Linked DNA regions of Homo sapiens: region 2 is linked to region 1. Evidence: fine-mapped expression QTL. A gene starts in region 1. The other region holds a variant in brackets. All regions are shown on one strand. Distances are from middle to middle.

What was found. PIP is the estimated chance that this variant, and not a neighbour inherited with it, causes the effect.
Region 2: its variant is fine-mapped to the expression of SLC25A13 in whole blood (TOPMed, PIP above 0.99).

The regions. Positions count from the first base shown.
Region 1 is chr7:96,320,764-96,323,680 of GRCh38, reverse strand. It overlaps SLC25A13 (solute carrier family 25 member 13), which reads left to right and starts at 1,583. Exons shown (of 18, transcript NM_014251.3): 1 at 1,583-1,739. The coding sequence starts at 1,725. RefSeq lists a silencer at 1,448-1,787.
Region 2 is chr7:96,300,092-96,303,008 of GRCh38, reverse strand. All of the region lies in intron 1 of SLC25A13 (solute carrier family 25 member 13), which reads left to right. Among named protein-coding and RNA genes, the nearest start is that of SLC25A13, 21 kb to the left of the region's middle. The variant A/C (reference allele first, on the strand shown) is at 1,372.

The DNA.
Region 1 (2,917 bases):
AGAGAGATCTTTCTATATCGAAAACCTAGTCATGCTGCTTCCTGACTTAAAACCCTTCAGTTAAGGTGCATACCCTTCAGCAAGGCGCCTAAGACCCACCATGACACAGCCCCTACCTGCTGGGCCAGACTCCTTCCACTAGTCGTGCCACTGCCCCAATCCCATAGCTCAAGATCAAGTTACCTTTTGATATGGTTTGACCGTGTCACTACCCAAATCTCATCTTAAATTGTAGTTCCCATAATCCCCACATGTCATGGGAAGGACCCGGTGAGAGACAACGGAATCATGGGGGCGGTTACTCCCATGCTGTTCTTGTGATAGTGAGTTCTTATGAGATCTGATGGTTTTACAAGGGGCTTTCCCCCCTTTGCTTGGCACTCATTCTCTCTCCTGCAACCCTGTAAAGAGGTGCCTTCCACCACAACTGTAAGTTTCCTGAGGTCTCCCAAACCATGCGAAACTGAGTCAATTAAATCTTTTGGTTTATAAATTACCCAGTCTCAGGTATTTCTTCATAGTGGCATGAGAATTCTCAGTATTCTTATTGAGCCCTGGGAACAGTCTGCTGCCTTAACAGGTTATACTGAAGTAAACATTTATGTGTCTCTTTCCCAATAGCCCTGAAGCTGTTTAACGGTTGGAACCAGTTCTTAAGTCATTTCGGGGTTTCCAGCACCAAGCACAGTGCCTAGCACATAGTAGGAAGGCACTCAATCAACGTTAATGAATTAAACTGATTAGTAATAAGTGCTTTTTGCTGCCATATTACATCCACAACCTACAATACATTAAAAGTCCTTTTCCCTGATCACCACTGTCTTATAAATTTTGATTACAAGGACAGAAGAATGAAATCCTGATGAAGAGGAGTAAGGCCTGGAGGTCATATAAGCAAATTTTCATTAAAATGCTTGTTTATTTATTTTAGTAGGGCCTATTTGGGGGAAGTCTTTTGACCCGGGCCTTTTGACTTCTACCGTTTTAACAGGTAGGGCTGAAATGGAGTAGTTTCATGAATATACGTTCTGCACTACATTCACTTGTTGGGTTCTTAAGAGTTCACCGATTTTGATCTAAAAGTAGGCGTGCCAGCAATATTTGCAATCTCGCCTTCTAAGTCAATGCTTTTGGATCAAAGTCTTTTTGGATCCAGTGTAAAGTGGAGCTCCTTCAAAGGGAACGCACAGGGGAAAAAATATCCAGCAAAGTATGTGTCCTAGTGGAGTTCTCAACTTCCCCAGGCCGTGCACCATCTGTCGTTACTTGCCCCTCCCATCGGTCCGAGGGCCCAGTAGCCCCTGGTATCAGCAGAAGCCAGCAGCTTCCCTGGTGGGGCCACCTGCCCTCAGGTGACGGGCTTGCACACGGCCAAGTTACCTCTGCCCACGCCGCAGAGGCCGCCGCTGCTGGACAGCGCAGCGGGGTCACGTGTCCCTGTCCAGCCACTGCCCCAGGATCTGAGCCCTCCCCGGCTGCAGGGCAGAGGCCGCTGGATCACGCGCACCCCGGCGGCCAAGGCTGGGCCCAGCCAATGGGCGGGCAGCATCCACATGACCCGCGCCGGCGGGAGGGCGTGGGGAGGCAGGCCAGGAACGCACGCTGCCTGGCCGTATCGCCGCCCCCACCGCCGCCGCCGCCGGGACTAGAAGTGAGCCGCCCGGGTCCCAAACGCCAGCCAGCCAGTCAGTGGGTCCCGCAGTCGCCCGCAACCGGGGCGAATCATGGCGGCCGCCAAGGTAACCGCGGGCCCGAGGCCGGGGGGAGCGCGCCTGCCGGATCAGCCTGGGGGTGCGAGAGGCTCGGGCGCTCACGTGTCTGGGTTGGTGCCACAGGCGGAGCAAAATGGGGTGCCGGGCAGCCGTTCCACCTTGCGGCTGCTGGAGGGAGGGGGCCACTCCTCCCGGGCAGCACAGGCGGTCGGTGCAGAGACCGAGGCCCGACCTCGCAGCGGAAACTTTGTGGGCCGGACACTCCCACTTGGCCGGGGAGGGAAGTTGGTGCCTGACGGGGCTGAGCCAGGGCCGACGAGGAGGAGCGGGCGCGACTGGGGCCTGGTGCACCCTGGGCCGGCAAGCGCTGGGGGTCCTCTCTACCTTCCCAGCGCGCTCCTGCTCCTGACCCCGCTGGTTGTTGACTCCGGCTTCTTCCAGGGGCCAGAGCCCGGGCTGAAGCCTGATCCTATTACGTTTCAAGGGCTCCGCCCTCCCGCGGGTGGGGAAGTTACTTTGACTTCCGTTTTGGAAACTGCCTAGGAGACTTGGTCTGCGCCTTTGTGAATAAAAAGTCCAGGGACTCTCCCCCTCCCCGCTTTCCCATCATTCCCATCTTCCCCCTCCCTCTCTCCATCTGACAACACTTAGATACCCGCCTCGGAGCATTTGAGAGGCTTCTTTTTGGGAACGATGAAACAGATTGTCCTGGGAGCCTGTCACTCCTGTGAAGTTGTACTTGAAAGGGGTTCTGTGTAATGTGAATCATTCACTAACCCAGAGGAAAGGCAACTCCAACACTTGACCTTTCCTCTTTCACCATTTCTTGAAACCTGGACACCATTTCAGTCTCTTTGGACTGCATTTCAACTTCTCTGGCAGAATACCATATTTAGTCCCAATCACTTGAATCATTTGGAATTTATTGCTTTTAATTTAAGTTCACGAAGGCAGCCCTCTAATCAAGCCTATACAACTTCTTAGCTCATTTTAAGTGCAGTGAACTTAAATATACCTAACATTTCAAACATTTGTCCTTAATCAAAACTCTGTGATAACCCTCAAGAGGAAAACATGGCCAACACATCATATTCCTATTTATTCAAGCAAACTAATCACATTTGCAATGGAAATTGTAAGCAGACAAATATATTTAAATGCTGTTCTATGACTTAAGTCTCTCCAGGCTCCCCAAATCCGTAGGC
Region 2 (2,917 bases), 21 kb after region 1:
AGCACCTCAGGGGACTTGAATATGCAGCGAGGACTGAGAACCTACATCTTATAATCCGTACATTAAAATTGGACATTATCTAAAGCTGTGGTTCTTAAACTTTAACTGCATCAGGGTCACCTGGAGGGCTTGTTAAATCATAGGGGATTGCTGGGCCTCACCCAGTTTCTGATTCTTTGGGTCTGGGATGGGTGTGATAATTTGTATTTTTAAAAGTTCCCAGGTGATGCTGATGGTCTCCACACTTTGAGAACCATTGGTCTGAAGAGAGTTGCCTATTTTCATTGTAAATGTCAGATTTTTACTGACCTGAAAGACTTTATTCTATATTCAGCACTTCCAGAGAATCTACTTTGTTTCCTGATCTTTGCCAGAGTTGGGGTTGATCTGAGGAGTAAGGTGCCCTCACAGAGATGGTGGTCTCACATCTCTACAGCCTCCCAGTGAAAGAGGAGAGCTTTGCTTTTCTTTGCATTTTATTTTTCAAATTAGCATTTCTTATTTTCGTGTAGGTTTTCTTATATTCTTCCCCACCATCCTCTCTTAGATCTGACAACTATTTTGAATACACCATTCTATACCACTGTGATTTGTTAAAGTAATGAGCCTGCAACTGTGGCTTGATTCCCTTGTAAGAAAGTCTGTTTAAAAAATATTCCTACAGGTAGGAATTTTCTGGTGACCCCCTACCTATGGCTGCTCTAACTCATATTAGGAGAGTGAATTCATTTGTCCTGAAAGATGACTTTTGTATTCTTCTTGCCATGTTCTCCCCTACCCCCTGCCTTTTTAAAAACACCAGTTCTTGAAATTGTGTTATTGTTTTTCTTTTTATTTCTAGGATGTACCTACCTAGTATGTGTTTTGCAAACGCTATTGATGACTTACACAATTATAACCAGTGTTTATCTTGTCAAAAAGTTTTACATATTCAGTGATTCTCAAATTTTGCTCCTGTGGAGCATAGACTCATTGAATCGACCTGAAATTTCCATACTAAATTTAAATAATGATAGACTTTTCCCAGTTTATGGAAGAAACTATGCATAGAGTTTTTCTGTTCCAACATTGCCACTTTCTGGGCCAGGCATGGTGGCTCATGCTTGTAAACCCAGCACTTTGGGAGGCCAAGATGGAAGGATCACTTGAGGCCAGGAGTTTGAGACTAGCTTGAGCAACATAGTGAGACTGTCTCTACAAAAAAATTAAAAAATTAGTGGGGCCTGGTGACACATGCATTTAGCCTCAGCTACTCAGGAGGCTGAGGTGGGAGGATTGCTTGAGCCCAGGAGTGTGAGGCTGCAGTAAGCCATGATCGCACCACTGCACTCCAGCCTGAGTGACACAATGAGACCCCCAACTAAAAAAAAA[A/C]AAAACAAAACACCAAAACCCTCTCTTTTTCCCTTAAATTTGGAATCAGAGTAAAATGTTATCAAATTTCAACAAAATTCTTTATCTTGTTAGCAAATAATATTTCATAGTAATCTGTAAAGGACCCCTTTCTTCTTAGTGAATTACTCTGTATGTTTGAAAACCAGTTACTTGATTTAAAATTCTTGATATAAAATTTTTGTTTTAATGTTGGAATCCATTCTTACAAATGCAAATTCAGAAGAAGAATCATAAAGAAAATCAGGCAGTTATAACAATAGTAGCTGTAAATATTTGCATGCTATTAATATATGAGAAAAAAATGTAACAGTGAAAGTAAGCCTTCTGGAAACAATCTAAAGTTTGATGACTCTTCTAAACCCCAAGAATGAACGAAGTCTAATAATTCCAGGCTTCTAAAGCCCAAGAATGAACTAAGTCTAATAATCCCAAGCTTATGTGATGCAAAGTATGCATGCTGGACAGCTGTTCTGAATTGACTTTAAAAGGGTGGCTACATTTCTGTGGCTTCCTTTTTCCAGCTCATAGAACTTCCTGGGTATTGGTTTTGCCACCAGGTAGAATTCATTGAAATACACCTTTAAAAAACTGGTACATCTCATGGTAACTTTGCATTGTCTTCAATTAAGTTGTGTAAGTGTTCTTCATTCATAGCAAATGACACTTAAAACAAGAAGATAGGAATGGGAGGTAGCAGTATAAATGGAAATTCCGAACAGCCACACAGCATTTGACTGGTGAATAATAGATGGAATTACTATAGAGATGAGGCCCAGGAGGCTGGTAGTAATTTTTCTGAATCCATCCCCTGTTGAACCATACTTATCTATCCTTAAATAGAATGTACCAGGACCTGAGCCAAATTTTAGTGGGCCTCAGAGAAATCTTGTGGTGATCATTAACCATTTGCTGTACCTGGAACTCTGGGTTGGGGGTAGGGTAGCTGAGACAATTATCAGTTAGGATGGCCACAATGTTTATTTAGTGGTTTGGTGAGTGTGTTTGAAGACCCATGAGTTTCTCTTCTCTTTTGCTAATTTATCCCTTCTAAATTATGAGCCAGTTTACCCATCATTTAGATTTCTTAAGGAGTAAACATGGTAGAACATAAACATCTTTGGATAAATAATACAAATAGTAATAGATACCATTTATTGAGCACTTTAACTGTGTGGCCCTTTTGGTGCTAAGCACTTTGTGTAATTATCTCATATTACTTTTCTAGCTGTCTAGGACTCCCCATTTTATAAATGAGGAAAGTGAGGCTGAGAGGTCAGGGCCTCCAAGTCACATGGCCAGTGAGTTTATGAGGTTGGTCCTGCTCCCTATTTGAGGATGATCTGACACTAAGGCCATGTTCTTTTTTTTTAATGAAGATGGGGTGTCACTATGTTGCCCAGGCTAATCTCAAACTCCAGGGCTCAAGTGATCCTCCCACCTTGGCCTCCCAAAGTGCTGGGATTATAGGTATGAGCCACCATTCCTGTAAGATCATGTCCTTAATCACAGCATTGGACAGACACTA